Regions from separate parts of the Homo sapiens genome. Here region 2 is linked to region 1. Evidence: fine-mapped expression QTL. Tissue or cell type: thyroid. Region 1 holds a variant in brackets; the other region holds the start of a gene. All regions are shown on one strand. Distances are between the middles of the regions.

Region 1 (8,105 bases):
AGGACATCTGTGTGGAAGAGCAGGAAAAATAGGGGTGTCCCCCTCACACCCTGTTGGGGGTAGTAAAAGGGGGGATAGTAAAAGGGACTGGGGGCCCTGGGGCTTCCCTGGCCTCCGTGGTGACTTTATCATATTATTTTAGCTGTTGTCCTGAAGGTTTGGGTGAGAGCTGCTAACCAGGTGAGTTACAGTAGGAGACAGACAGCATCCGCCAAGGGCAAACATTTCATGTTGGCTGGGCCTTCTAATCTGGTCCCTGAGTAACTGAGCTGGGGGACCAGGGAGGAGCCCGCCTCCTGCGGGAAGGCATTGGGAGCAGGCAAGAGCGTACACCCTCACCTTGTGTCAAGGCAAAAGGATGGACAAATATAGATTGAATCTCATCCCAGGCACCATTTATTTCCCTGTCCCTTTCTGGGACCCCTGAACTTCTCTTCCCAGAAGAGCAAACGAACCAAATCCCAGGCCCTTGTCCTGCCCCACAGTGCCTCACATCCCTTCGGAAGAGTCCAAGGCCTGGGGAGGGGCATCTTCAGCTGAAGGAGGACACAGGGTGTCTGCTGGGAAGACTGGCTGTCCCACAGCAGTGCCCAGCCTTCGCAGGACCTCTCTTGGTCTCTGTCCGTGGGTGACCCTGCTCCAGCCTCTCAGATGATGCTGGTCCTGCAGGTGCCCTGGCTCTGCTCCAAGTGGCTGGCCTTGGTGCTGTTGCTGAAGGAGGCCACGGGGTGCAGTGGGAACTCACGGAGGTGCCATTGCTGCCACTTCTTCTGAACCTCCAGCTGCACCTGCCCGGGAGACCAGCCATCAGCCCAGGAGGAGAGGACAGTTCTGTGCCTGGAGCCCTGCTCACTCCCCCAGTGACTCCACGCAGGCCCTGCCACTCCTGCCCAGCTGCCCTGTCCCCTAGCCTGCAGGCCACGCAGATTGACTGTTTCCAGCCCCAATGTCCAGTAGCTACTGAGGGTCCCCTCTCTCCTGGGCACATGCACCTGCAATCTCATTACATCGTGTCTTAAAGAAAGGACTTGTGCACCTTGGGACAAGTGTGTGCCCTTGACATTACAAGAGCAGTGGTGGGGAAAGCTAGCTCCCTGGCCCCCAGGCTGAGAGGAAAAGAATCCCGGATTAAGCCAGAGGCTGAGTTCTCTGAAGGTCTGGGGCACTGACAGGGGCTACTGGGCAGAGGGCCAGCTTAGAGGAGGGTGTGGTCTGAAGGTGTGGGTAGGGCAAGGCCTGACTCCACTCAGTGATGGGTCCCCAGTGATTTTAAGTGATTTAAGATGGGTCCCCACTTATTCCCAGGAAGCCACCCAAGCTCAGAACTGATCTGGGAACTAGGGAGTTTCTCTTTGTAAATTTCCTTCACAATTCCCAGCTGCAGCAGCTGAACCTTTGAAGCTAGGCTTGATATTTGATTTTTGGGAAACATCAAAGATCACTCCCATTCAAGTGCAACAAACCAGATAGATGGTCAGTAGTCACAGAAAGCCTTAGCTCATGTTAACCACATAGCTCTGTATGCCCAGAGCCTGGGGTCCTGACCCAGATGCTCCATGTGAGGCTCGAGTCCTCAAAGTGAGTGTGCAGTCTCCCAAGGAGTCAGTGCTCATCTGGAGGTCCCTAAGGATTGAGCTGCAGACAGTTCTGAGTCACCCGTTTCACATATGGGCAGACTGAGGCCCAGAACAGGGCAGTGACTGAGATCGCCCATTAAGCAAGCAGCAGGGCAGTCAGGAACCTGGGTTCTGCCCAACTTTCCTCCTGCATTTGCTGAACAGATCAACATCGGCACCAGGAATGCTTGTTAAAAAACACTTTCTCAGACCCCAGTCCAGACCTACAGAATTTATTTCTGTGGAATGAGAAACTAGGAACAGGGTCCAGCCATGGTTTGAACAAGCCTTGCTCCCATTAAGCAAATTCAGACTCCTAAAAGAACTGGCCAAGCCACCTGCCACCAGACCCAGGACTCCCTCTGACCCTTTCCATCCCCCTTCCTACCACCCCTCCCAGGTAGCTCCTTCTGACCCGGAAACCAATGGCTAGGAGCTCTCCTGGGTACCTGGGTGACCCAAGACTACTCACCTCCCCATTGAGGAAGCAGTAGAGGACGGCCACCACCAGTCCCTGCCAGAAGAAGAGAGGTAGCAGGGTTAGCACAGGTGCTCAGCATGCGGCCTGAACCAGCTGGCCAGCTGCACCCTCCCCAGGTCTCTTAATCACCAGCTACAGGCTCATTTCCCCACCTCTCTTGCCTCACTGGGAATTAGGCTACCTCTTGTGGGCTGCCCACGGTGGCCCTGGCTGTGCTGGCTCATCCAGCATAAACTGTGAACTCCTTGCAGCCAAGGGTAGGCTCCCTTTTGAACACATATGGTGTCAGGGGGGCTGCTAACCCAGCCAGCCGGGATCAGGAAGCTCACCTGGGAGCCACAGGGATGGGTGGCACCTGAAGTCCGCCCACTCTGCCAGGAGGAGTGCAGGCTGCCCAGGGTGAGACCCTGGGCCCTGTGTGGTCTTATTTCAAGATAAACTGGAAATCTGAATATGTTTAAATGTAGATAACTAATTCAAATTGAAAAACAAATGTGTAGGCAGAACAAACTATGTACAGGTCCCGGCCAGCCAGTGGTGAGCAGGGTTGGAGCTCCCTGCTTAATGGACAGGTGGGTGCACCTCCGTGCTCAGAGTTTTATGTTCCCTGGTGTGGCAAGGTCTGTGCCTGTAAGACCCTCCCTCCCTGGTATTTGGAGCTCCTGATTTCCTGATGGTGCCCCCAGGATCCTGGTGTGGAGCTCTGTCAGGGGAGGGACTCCAGGCTGGGGCGCCTGCTTGGAGCCTAAGAGGCCTCCAGATCAGCAGGAAGCAGTGTCTCTGCGGCGCATTCACCCTGCTCCTCTCCTTTCTCAGGGACCCACCTCAGGCCACCCTTCTCTCCCTTACGGGCCTGCCCTCCCCACACAGAGGCCTGACCTCAGATGGCCCAACTCCTCCTCCCTAGTCCCACCCAGGCCTGCCTGTAGCTACTTATGATATTGGAAAGGAACCTCGAAGGGTGATGAATCAGCTCATCGATGGTGGGCTTAATATGTACAACTTCTCAGGGATATTGGCATTTTAAAAAGAGTTAGTGGCGAAGCTGGAAGGGTTTGCTTTAGAATTTCAGGTATCAATGACTGCTACATAGACTGGGGACTATTTGAGGGGCAGAAACACTCAGGGCATCGGTTTCCAAGTATTGCTGCACATTAGAATCACCTGGGACCTTTTATCCAGGTTGCACTCCCCAGATCCCAGTAGCTGGGGGCATCAGCAGCTTTTAAAGATCCCCACACAGTTCCAAAAAACGGGCATCATGGTCCGGGAACTACTGTCAGAGAGGGAGTAAAAGGCACTTCAAGGCAGGCTTTGAAATGAAACAGACTTGGATCGGAGCACAGCTAGGCCTGAGTAATTGTAGGTCCCAGGTGCTTCATTTAACCTCGCCAAAGCTCTCGGAGGCAGGTGGGAGGATCTTCACCTCACAAGCGAGGGAACTGAGGCACGGAGGGGTTTAGGCATGCCTGGAGCTCTGTGTGCTTGGCCCAGAGCCACGAGCAGGCCAAGGATGCTGCCCGTTGCATGGGCTAGGGTTGCCTGGCCTCCGCTGCGCTAGGGTCCAGGGACACATTTTCACTGTTCAGGGGAGGGAGTTAGCTGTGCTCCAGTGTATATAGGGCAGGCCTCACACAAGCCAGCAAGTTTACTAATTTCCACCGTGATTCTGCGATCATTAAGGATGAAGACTTTGAAGAATTTTAATGACATGAAGAAATGCTCATGATGGGCATGATAGAGAATTAAACAAAACAAGCAAGATACAAAACCATACACATCATGATCCCAATTATGTGTGTGTATCTTTGTGGAAAGAAAAGAGAC[G/A]GAAGTAAACACACCAACACTTTAACAGAAGTTATTTCTGGGTTATGACGTTCTAGATTTTTTTCTTATTATTTTTCTTTTTTTGAAAAACTTTTCCTTATTTCCCAAATTATTCACAATAAGCAAGCATTATTTATACAATTAGAAAGAGTGAATACATATTTTTTTTTGGAGACGGAGTCTCGCTCTGTCACCCAGGCTGGAGTGCAGTGGCGCGATCTCGGCTCACTGCAACCTCTGCCTCCCAGGTTCAAGCAATTCTCTTGCCTCAGCCTCCCGAGTAACTGGGACTACAGGCACACACCACCATGCCTGGGTAATTTTTTGTATTTTAGTAGAGACAGGCTTTCATCATGTTGCCCAGGCTGGTCTCGAACTCCTGAGCTCAGGCAATTCGCCTGCCTCGGCCTCCCGAAGTGCTAGGATTACAGGCGTGAGCCCCCGCGCCCGGCCATAAATACATTTTTAAAGAGTATATGACAGTGATGGTGTTATTACAGTTGTATGTGTTCTTCTTTAAGCCCCGTCTTTTAGAAATGCACACTAAACTCTTTGAAGATGAAATAACATGATGTTTTGAATTTACTTAAAAAGATGGGGGTAGTAGGTAGGGATGGAGATGAAACAAACAGGCCATGAGTGGATACCGCTGAGGCTGGGGATAGGTAATGGGGTTCATTGTCCTATTCTCTTCACTTTTGTATATGAAAAACATTTTCTCATGTGTGTGTATATATAAGAATATATATACATATTCTTATATATATATACACATATGTATATATACATATGAATATATACACATATGTATATATACATATGAATATATACACATATACATATGAATATATACACATATACATATGAATATATACATATATACATATGAATATATACACATATATACGTATGAATATATACACATATATACGTATGAATATATATACACATATATACGTATGAATATATATACACATATATACGTATGAATATATATACACATATACGTATGAATATATATACCCATATACGTATGAATATACACATATATATACGTACGTATATATATACACATATATACGTACGTATATATATACACATATATACGTACGTATATATATACACATATATACGTACGAATATATATACACATATATACGTACGAATATATATACACATATATACGTACGAATATATATACACATATATACGTACGAATATATATACACATATATACGTACGAATATATATACACATATATACGTACGAATATATATACACATATATACGTACGAATATATATACACATATATACGTACGAATATATATACACATATATACGTACGAATATATATACACATATATACGTACGAATATATATACACATATATACGTACGAATATATATACACATATATTCGTACGAATATATATACACATATATTCGTACGAATATATATACACATATATTCGTACGAATATATATACACATATATTCGTACGAATATATATACATATATTCGTACGAATATACACATATATTCGTACGAATATATATACATATATTCGTACGAATATATATACATATATTCGTACGAATATATATACATATATATGTATAAAACTTTAAAAGATCCTTTTTCTTCATCAACATTCGTATGAGAACATCAGGAAAGTGCTTTTGATTTTCTCTTGGCAAGACATTTTCCTAGAGAAGTAGTCCACAGTCCCAACCATTAGCCCCAACTCTGAGGGACAGGAAGTCCCCATCCATGGCCAGGCAGACCCGGGTCCAAGCTCTCAGCATGGTCCCTTTTCTGAGCCAGGTCAAGTCCTTCCACCCGACTGGTCCTCAAATCCTCTACCTGCTAGATGGGCCATTGTGTGCCCAGCCTCCCTGGACGTTACAAGAGCAGTGGTGAGGAAAGCTAGCTCCCTGGCCCCCAGGCCGAGAGGAAAAGAATCCTGGATTAAGCCAGAGGCTGAGTTCTCTGGAGGTCTGGGGCACTGACGGGTTACTGGGTAGAGGGCCAGCTTAGGGGAGGGTGTGGTCTGAAGGTATGGGTAGGGCAAGACCTGACTCCACTCAGTGATGTGTCCCCAGTGAGGCATCCTCCCTAGAACCTGTAAGTAACAGGAAGACCCTACCCTGAACAGAGCTCTAGGGATGAGGGGAGGGTTTGAACCCCTGCTCGCAGGCCGAGGCCACCCCAGTGAAAGCTTGGCTGGACAATATCGCCCTACCGTGGAAATGTCGTTAAGGACTAAGTCCTTTAAAAAAAACTACTGGGAGAATTTTGTCTCAGGCCTAGAGCCTATAATCACTGGCTTCTCCCGGCCGTTAGTTTGATTTTGTCTTATGGATATGCGAAATTTTGAAACAATTGTTTTGTCTTTGCTTTGGCTACTGGGAAGCTCCCTATCATACTTATGACCCATCTCTCCCTCCTGTATAGAACTTTATCGTATTTGTTTCTGTGTAGCAACCCAACCAGTTGTACATTCTTTTTTTCACTGATCCTTCATCGACTTATTTTTTGTCCTTTGTATGTTTTTCCCAAAAGCGACATTGCATTATTTTTGGAAGGAAATAGCTATGAGTAAATAAACAAACGGCATTGTGAAGTTTGGGATTCACGTTCAGGCTCCCTCTGCCCAAACACGTTTACTGTTGTTGTTTTTAAGTTCACAGCATCTTGTGGAATTAGTAGGTAAGCGCTTTTCCACCTCACTTTATTTTTTAAAGTCAGTTTTTAGTTTTAATAATTTGCATATGCACATGGTTTCAGAGAATCAAAGGATTCCTGTTACAGAACCAGCAGCCTCCTGACACCCCACCCTCACTTCCTTTTCCTCACATGCGACTGCTCCTTGAAACTCTCTTAACTGCTTCTAAAAAATATGCTGGTGTCGCCACTTGAGGAGTTTTCAGTCTAGGGCATTTTCTATGGACTTCCCAGTGTGAAGATGAGGACAGTGTTCTCTTCCAAACACCCGCCCCACGCTCCCGCGAGGCTCATCTTCCCGCCCCAGTGTTTGATGACTTGGCCATCCGCGCTTACGTTATTTTGACCATGTATATGTTATTGAGAGTTGTACAATATAGTGTACTGGGGCTACTTTTCCTTTTTATTTTCCCTGAAGTCAGTCTCTCTGTCTCTCTTAGTTTTATCTCCCACCCCCATTTGACTGGTGGGGACCAGGGATCCCACTCAGGGACCTGTAGCACTGTCAGGTCCGACCCCTTCTTCCCCTGGGTCTCTGCCAGATAAGGCATCTGGCTCGCAGTCTCTATGCCCTCCACTTCTCCCTAAGGACACAGAGAACTCCTCTTTTCAGCTGGCAGCCCCAGTCCTGGAAACTTACCTGGAATGAGCCAAGGGCTAGTTCAAAAAACAGCTGGATCTCCATAGCGTCCTCTGGGGAGAAGGCGAAGACGATGTAGTGGATGCCAAAGAGGGGGATCAGCAGGAGAGTGGACCTGGCCAGGCGCCTGGGGACACAGAAAGCCTGTAGCCTCCACTCTGCCTCCCTGCGCCCTTTCTCCTCCTGTAGGCACACAGCTGTGCCACTCCCCAGCTCGGGACTGACTGCTGAGGCTGGCTAGCAGTACCCCAAACTTTTTTGTTTTCATTTTTTATTTTGAAAGTTTCTAACTCCCTCATATCCATCACTCAGATACAACAATTTTTGACTCATGGCAAAGCCCCAAACTTTCTGATCATGCACCTCCATCAGTAAAAAGAAAAAAAAACGGTACCTACACCATTAACTTTATTTATAAATTACGTGCCTATATCACTGCTGCTCTATGTCTAACATCATACAAGCAAAGCCGGCTTTCTCATTTGCTAGATAATAAATATCTGTAGGGACAAATTCTTGTATTTTCTTCCCAGATTAGGGTTGCCAAACTTAGCAAATAAAAATACAGAATCCCCAGTTAAATCTGAATTTCAGATAAACAATGGACACCATGTGGGGGTATAAATATTGAAAAACGATTTGTTGTTTATCCAAAATTCAAATGTAACTGGGCATCCTGTATTTTACCTGGCAACTTTATCCCAGGTCCCCAGGAATCTGACACCAAGTAATCTGAGGCACTGTCAGATTCTCAAAACACGAAACACCATGGAGAAGGTCTCTGGGGGACACTAATTTGTCCTGTTTTTGTTTTGT
Region 2 (8,105 bases), 33 kb after region 1:
GTGCACAAACAAATATTTATTGGGCACCTCATAGGTGCCAAGCATTGTGCTGGGCACTGGGGCCTGGAAATGAACAAGACTCTCTGATTTGTCACCGTGATTTTGCCCAGACCCAACCCTGGCCCACAGCAGGTGCTCAGTGAGTGTTTGTGGAGTGAATGAATGCCTTTGAGGAGCATGTATTTTAGTGAGAGAGATGGAGGCAGGTGGCACACGCTGATCATTTTAATGTAACATGGTAGGTAATAGTTGGAGGCCAACACCAGGCTCTAAGGGAGCCCTTCCCGTGGGGAGGGGAAGAAAGGGCTGGCATGGATGGGCCCGAGGGGAGTCTCAAAGGATATATAAGAATCAGTCAAGAAAAGAGAGGAGGAAAGTGCTCTCCAGGCAAGGGGCCCTAACGGGGGCAAAGGCCCAGGTGGGAGGCAGGATGGCACAGTGTGCATGAGATTTGAGAGAAAGGGCCATCCTGGGAAAGGACAGTGATGCAGAGTGAGCTGAGCCCAGACAGGGCCCTGATGGCCACCCTCAGAGGAAGCCTCTGGAGGTCCCCAGCAAAGGTCAGCCGATTGCCGAAGGGAGCATCCCCTCAGCTAGGGCAGCTCTGCAGCCGGACTCCCTCCTTGCTTATCAGAGCCGGGAGACTCCTTCGAATGCTGTAAACATTTTTTTTTTTAAGAGACAGGGCTCAATCCTGTCCTCCATTGCCCAGGTTAGAGTGCAGCGACACAATCACTGCTCACTGCATCCTCAAACTCTCCAGCTCAGGCGATCCTCCTGCCTCAGCTTCCTGAGTAGCTGGGACTATAGGCACGCACCACCACGCTCAGCTAATTTTTAAACATTTTTTGTAGATCCAATGTTTCACTATGTTGCCCTGGCCTCAGGCAATCCTCCCACCTCATCCTCCCAAAGTGCTGGGATTATAGGTGTAAGCCGCCACACCCGGCCAAAAGCAAACATTTACTGAGCACTTACTGTGACCAGGCGCCCAACTCAGGATGCACATATATTAACTCATTTAGTTCTCTTGACAAGCCTATGTTGTCAGCATTATTAACACCATTTCCCAGATGAAGAAAGTGAGGCACGTAGTGATTAAATCTTCCCCAGCCCCACTAAGGTCAAGGTCGGAATTCAGACGCACCAGCCTTGCTCTGAGCATTTAGCCACTATGTTAGCGTCTCTTTCAGTTGAATGAATACAGCACCCCCAGTCTCGCGGTGGTATGCGACAGTTCCTACCTGTGCCTGGGTTCCTCCTAACCATCATCTCCGGGTCGATAGACCAGGGCAGTGAGGCAGACCCACTGACACCTCTGTGAGTAGGAGGCATGGGGACAGGGGGTAGCCCTTACATCCTGACCACTGTCCCAGGCCTGTGCCACCCTGTCCTCTCCCAGGGCCTCCTCTCCCAGGGCCTCCTCACCCTATAGGTTCCTGTCCCCGGGTTCGTGGGGTGGAGGTTGACAGGCTTACCCGCTTCTCGTTGGAAGAGTCGTTCACATTAACGCCACAGGCCAGATTAGGCCTGGGGAAGGTTTCTGACCAGCCATCCTGTGTGCAGTTTCGGAACAAGGAACCTGTGGGTGCCAAGAGTCCTGTAGGTGAGCCATGGGCCCAGGCACTGTGATTTTCATAGTAACATCTATTGTAACATGTAGCTGCTACAACCACTCTATAGTGTGGAAACTGAGGCACACAGCAGTTCCAGAACTTGCCCAAGACCACACCCTAGTAAATAGGGGGAAAGTGATTTGAACCCTGGGGCTCGGGCTCCAGAGCCCAAGCTCTTAAGCACACACCACGTGCCAGTCCCCCTTCTCACCCCAGCCGGGTGCTGCTCCTGATCCCAGGCCCTGCCACCGTTTAACAGGTGGGTACCCCGGAGAATCTGTGGTGGCTGCCCAGTACCTGGCCACTCCCATCATGACTTTTTCTCAGGCTCCCATTTTTACTCATCCTGCTCCATGGAAGTTCTGTTTTAAATGGAACTTCATGCCCTGCTCACTCAGCCATTTGAAAACCACCAGAGTGCCATTGAGATGAACCCCTCCAGGCAGCGCCCCTCACGGAAGGGTGGAGGGTCCTTCGGCCACGACCTGTAGGCCACCCCTCTGCATTTCTCTGCATAATAGATCGTGAGACCACCACAGTCCTCCGGCTCAGCTGCTCACTGCCCCCCACCCCTGGCACGAGGACGCATGCTGGGCCCTCTCACCACATGGGCAGTGGCTTCCCCGCCTCCCCAGTGCCTGGCCCAGAGCCTCTGCTTATCAAACGCGGGCTGGCTGGCTGGACAGAAAGGCAAATTGAATGGGGATAAAGAGCCTGCCCTGAACTCTTCTCATAGGGAAGAGGAGAGCACTTCCCCACTGGAGCTTTTACAGCAGGAGCCCAGCCTGCGGAAGGGAGCCACTAGCCAGGAGGGAAGTCTTGGAAGGCCACCGTGAGGAGTTTCCCTCCTCGGGCTGAATGGCCTCGCTGAATTCTGTACTCTGAGCTGCCAAGGAGGGCTGGGATCTGGCTCCCCAGCTCAGGCCGGTGTAAGTGTTGCAGGGGGCAGGATGCTGATGGCCGAGTCCTGTGGGTAGGAGCCCTGCCACCCCTTTGCTCTCACTGGAGCCTTAACAGCCCCAGCTGAGCGTGGCATGCTTCTTTACACAGTCTCCAGGGGCTGGGCCCCTGGCTAACAGGGTTTAGGGTCTAATCCTCACAGTGCCCCACTGAAGGAGGTGCTGCTGCCCATTTTACAGGACAGAACACCAAGGCCCAGAATTGAGCTATCATGCCCAGCCACAGCGTATGCTATCACTGTTCTACCCACCCACCGGGCCCTCTTCCTGAAGTCTCAGGGGCAGCGTCTAGGACCAGGAGACCGTGTCCTCTGAGATCTGGGCATGCCTGCCCTGTGGAGGCTCAGGAGGCCTGGAGCGCAGGTTTAGAAGCAGCCAGATCTGAGTCTGAAACCCAGTGCAGCCTCTTGGTCACTGTGTGACCTTCGGTGCATCATTTCTCTGTGCCACAAAATAATCACCCACACTGCAAGAGTGAGCAGGGAACATGAGAGCACACGGAAAATGCCTAGGCTGGTGCCAGGCACAGAGCGGGCACCGAGGCATCACTCCCCTCTCTTTTTGGCCTTTCTAAAATAGGCAGAAGTGGGAGGGGCTTGGAATCTTGGAATTTAGGCGAGGGGTGGGGAGGTTTCTGGAACTGAATCAAGAGAGTTAGGTTGTCAGATGGGAAACAACGGTGGTCAAATTTAGGCTGGGTGGATGGGAAAGCAAGTTAAGGGAACACAAATTCCCCCAAGGCCAGAATCGAAGGTTATAAGACAGCGCGTGCCTAGAGGCTGGGCTCCCTGTGGGCTCGCCCAGGGCAGCAGGCCTGCCCGTTTGGGGCCCTCTCCTCACTGACACAGCAGGACTCCCAAGACAGATGCTGCATGTGACCCAGGCCAGGTGCCCAGAGCTGCTAACAAGGCAGGGCCCCCTGCCTTCCACTCTGTAGAGCTGCAAAGCAGCTGCCTCCCCACTTCCCCAGGGCTGAATTCCTAATAGGTAAGGGAAACTTAACCAGGCACAGGCCAGTGTGCACCTCAGGGGACCCCTGAAAGGATGTTTGTGCATATATATATATATATAGATGTAGATATTTATATTATATATATAATATAAATAGATATTTATATTTATATTTGTATTATATTATAAATATAAAATAAATATATATATTATGTGCATATATATAAATATATAGATATATAGATATATATTTATGCAGTTCGGGGAAAGACTAGTCCAAAGCTTTCATCTGATTTTCAGAAGGCTCCGGGACCCTAATCAGGTTGGGAAGCATGACCGCTTTAAGGCCAGATCCTCACTAAGTAGGAAGAGAAAGAGGGCCAAGGGGATGCCGCTGGGGAATTGTGTTTTTTAATAAGGAACTCTGGAAGACCAGCGTCCTTTTCAGAATCAAAGGAATACACCCTAGAGGGAGCATTCTAGGCCTGGCATGAACAGAAACATCTGGGGGCAGAATCGGCCTGCGGTTTCTCCAGTCACATGGACCCCACCCCTCCTGTCAGGACCCATGTAGTAGGTGCCCTCAAGGAGAATTAATTTATTTTCCAGAGCACCTTGTCCTCACTGGGCGCTCCCCCTGGGGTTAGGGTTGGGGGCACCACCTAGGGAAGCCTGCCTTCCTGCCGGGAGATGAAGGGGCAGGAGTCTAATCAGACCCAGAAGTAGATCTATGGGGATGAAGGAGGGGTGGGTGGGAGTTCTTGATGATAAATTGAGGCCAGACAGCTGTTGACCTGTGCTCTTGGGCCACCCACCCCCAGGCTGGGTATGAACAACGTGGCCCCCACCACCCTGGAGGGAGCCCAGAGCCCAATAGGCAGGCCTTTGGTGTGGCCCTGCAGGCCCACAGCGACACCATGTGGCGGCGAGAAGAAACTGCAGCAGAGTCGGCACAGGACCCCAGCTTCCATCCTCACGTTGTGTGGACATGGTCCAGCTTCCTGCCGCGGACCATGAGCAATCCAAGGGTAGGGGAGCCTCAAGAGGGAGACACTGAGCCTTTACGTAATGAGGCAGGGAGGGGTTCAAGCAATTAATTGAGAAAGGATGTGACAGGACTGGCACCTGGTCACTTTGTGGCCGTGAGCACCAGCTCCGCCTATCCCCTCTGCAGGGCAGAAGGGACAGTGCTGCGGGAGGCGGAGGTGCTGTGGCTCTGGGAAGGCTGAAAAGGGACGGCTGCAAAGGAGAAGAGCTTCGAGTCCTTTCCATCAGGAGAAAAACCCGGTCAGCTGTGGAGGAGCACTGCACAGGAGTCAGAAAGTGGAGTCTGGGCGTGACCTTGCACCTGACCAGCCTGGGGCTCTAGGTCCGCCACATCTGGACTAATCTCCTGTGTCCTGAGCTCCCAGGACCCCAGAGGCAAGCATGGAGGGGCCACGCTGGCAGGTAAAGTTGGTAAGCTTGCGGGGGTGTGTGTGGCAGGGGTAGGGGAGGGAAGGTGGGAAGGAGAAAAAGGAAAAGAAGGGAGAGGAGTAGGGGAGAAGGGACAAAATTTATTTCCAAGCACAGCCTTACAGGGCAGGTCTTATTTATTTTCCCCATTTTACAGTCAAGAAAATTGAGGCTCCCCAGCAGTGAGCAACTTGGATCCCGGGGCTGACTGGCACCCAGCTAAAAGACATTTCCCCAGGTCCCTTGCAGTTAGATGTTGCCATGTGACTGAGTTCTAGCCGAGGGAATGTGGGCAGAGTGGGATCCTTCCCAGGCCCGCCCCTTATGAACCTCTGCTGTGTGGTCCTCCGAGTTCTTTCCTCTCCGCCAGTCAGCCTGGAAACTATGTGATGCCACGGTTGTGAGGTGTGGGGTGCTGGGGTCACCGTGTAGAGGAGAGCTGCCTGCTAATCAGGAATACCTGTTTCCTGTTCTGGACGTTTTTTGTTTGTTTGTTTGTTTGTTTGTTTGTTTGTGACAGAGTCTCACTCTGTCGCCCAGGCTGGGGTGCAGTGGCACGAGCTCAGCTAACTGCAACCTCAGCCTCCCAGGTTCAAGTGATTCTCGTGCCTCGGCCTCCTGAGTAGCTGGGATTACAGGTGTGCACCACCACGCCTAGCTAATTTTTGTACTTTTAGAAGAGATGGGGTTTCACCATGTTGGCCAGGCTGGTCTCGAACTCCCGACCTCAGGAGATCCGCCCACCTCGGCCTCCCAAAGTACTGGGATTACAGGTGTGAGCCACCGCACCCAGCCTGTTTTGGACTTTCTGTGGACAAATTTGCATGAAGGCTTTGAGATGTGGGGCATTGTCTGTTACAGCAGCTAGCATTACCAAGCCAGGAATTGGAGGAGCGGGTTTCAAGCCTGTCTACCTCATTTCCCCCAGTTCCCATAGTGTAGGGTGTTGAGTGAGGCTTCGAGGGAGCAGCATGTTCCCCAAATATGTGTGTGTGTGCACACATGTGCGTATGTACAGCAGAATTATGGTGAGAAGAATCTCCACTCCCTTCCCACAGTCTCTGAACCGTGGTCATCTTTGCCTTGCCTGACTTTGAAAGGCTGGTGGGTTTTAGTGTTAAATCACCTATTCTTGTTCAGGCTTCATCTGGCAGCTTTGCTGTCCTGCATGGACCAGGAAAGAGGGGCAGCTGCACAGCTTTTCTCAGTCCCTGTTATTATTACTCTTTACTGGATCAAGGGAAAAGTCCTGTGATCTGCAGGGGGTTTATGATGAATAAATGAGCCCGTATGTACATATAAAAATGTCCAGTGCATGGTCGACTTCTAATCAATGTGAGTCAACTAGGAAAATTCTTAAATCCGCAGCTGTCTTCTGGTAAGACAACCCCTCGCCCCAGGAGGCCAGGGGCTCCCAGGGAGCCAATTTCTCAGCAGGGCCTGACAGTGGAAGGAAGTATTTTGGAAGGCCAGGCCATTAGGGAGCCTGCCACTACCAGGAGGGGTTCCAGACATGGGGACTGGAACAAGGCCCCTGGTTGCTAAGGGGGCAGAAACATGGAAGGAAGGAAGAGAGCTCCTAGCTGAAGGGCCTGGGGAAGACAGAAGCAGGCCCAGCCTCCCTTATCGCCTTCCCCAGTGCACTGCCTCCTGCCCCCTTGCTTGACACCCTCAGAATTTGAGTCCACCCCACATTCCCAAGCAAGGCTTCTAATCCTTTGCAGTGATCTCCCCCATCATTGTACCCATACTTGTCCTCAGAGAAGGTTCCTTGGCCTCCTGCCTCTAAGCTGAGGCCCCACCCAGAGGGACACCCCTCAGCCTGTCCGCCAGGCCCCATGGGCCGAGTGGTTACCATTTCTGCTGGTGAGCATCCGGAGGAATCTCGGGCATTCCACCTCCACCATCCGGCCCGGCACAGAAGAGGGCCAGCAGCTTATGTTGTCCCACATCCCCTCACAACCTGCCAAGAAAAGCAGCATCAGACAAGGATGGGGGATGGACCGAGGGCTGCCCTACCATCCTGTCCACATCACCGACACCCTTGCCTGCCTGGAATTCCCACTAGACTACTTTCAAAGCTCTCATTAGGTGCTGACTCCTCAGGATCAGGAACCTATCCTGTCTAATGCACCCTTGGACTCTGCCATGTACACGGTAGTGCTCAGTGTTGAAGATAGAAGGAAGTAAGAAAGGGAGGGAGGAAGGGAAGAAGGAAAGAAGGAAGGCGCCCTCTCCTATAAGCTTTGCAAGTAAAGGTCTGGATTTCTCTGGAGCAGATGGCACATCTGTTGGCCAATCAGTTTGCATTAAACAACTAAGCAGCAATGGGTCTCCCTTCTAGCTTCATGGTACGACTACCTGGGGAGCTTTAGAAATAGACCTAGCCGGCGTGGCACACAGGGATCCTGCATGAATTGGTTTGGGTGGGCCCAGGCATCATGTCCTTTGAAAGCCTTACAGGTAATTCTAACGTTTGACTGCAGGGTTGAGAACTCTTGTCCCATGATTCTCAAACTTCAGCTTGCATCAGAGTCACCCAGAGGGATTATTAAAACACAGATTGCTCAGTAAGTCTGGGGTGGGGCCTGAGTATCTGCATTTCTAACAAGTTCCCAAGTGATGCTGATGCTGTTTGTCCTGGGACCACACTCAGAGCCACTGCCCTGGCCTATGGACACAGCTCCACAAGTGTCACCACTGTATTTGCTGCAAGAATATTATTGAGGATGTTGCTTTCTACATCACTTGAGTTCCCTTGATGAGGCCCCTCTGGAAGGAGAACCAGGTCTCAATGCAGTGAGAAGCTGAACTTATTGTGAACGACTAGTATACATAGACACTACATTTGAAGCTGGTTTCCTCTTTGATTTGGCTGCTAGGAAGCTCAGAGCCAGATGCGTGGCCCACTTCTGAAAACTGAAAGATTTTAAGATGAATAAAAAAAATTACTAGGTGTTTTCAATGCAAAACTAGGCATTGTCTAAGCACAGCCTTCTGGATTATCTGATTCAATGGGGTGTCAGGTCTTTTATTGTCTTCGAGCTACACTGCAACTCTGTAAGTTCTAGATGATTGGTAGCAATGCAAATGATTCTCGTCCATAGGCACAATAATTATTGTC

What was found. PIP is the estimated chance that this variant, and not a neighbour inherited with it, causes the effect.
Region 2: it holds the start of SCTR-AS1, and the variant in region 1 is fine-mapped to the expression of SCTR-AS1 in thyroid (GTEx, PIP 0.97).

The regions. Positions count from the first base shown.
Region 1 is chr2:119,439,470-119,447,574 of GRCh38, forward strand. It overlaps SCTR (secretin receptor), which reads right to left. Exons shown (of 13, transcript NM_002980.3): 11 at 7,290-7,416; 12 at 2,089-2,130; 13 at 374-788. The coding sequence ends at 648. Among named protein-coding and RNA genes, the nearest start is that of TMEM37, 12 kb to the left of the region's middle. The variant G/A (reference allele first, on the strand shown) is at 3,925.
Region 2 is chr2:119,471,975-119,480,079 of GRCh38, forward strand. It overlaps SCTR-AS1 (SCTR antisense RNA 1), which reads left to right and starts at 4,480. Exons shown (of 2, transcript NR_147847.1): 1 at 4,480-4,984. It overlaps SCTR (secretin receptor), which reads right to left. Exons shown (of 13, transcript NM_002980.3): 3 at 6,837-6,944; 4 at 1,479-1,582. RefSeq lists enhancers at 1,695-2,246, 2,797-3,347.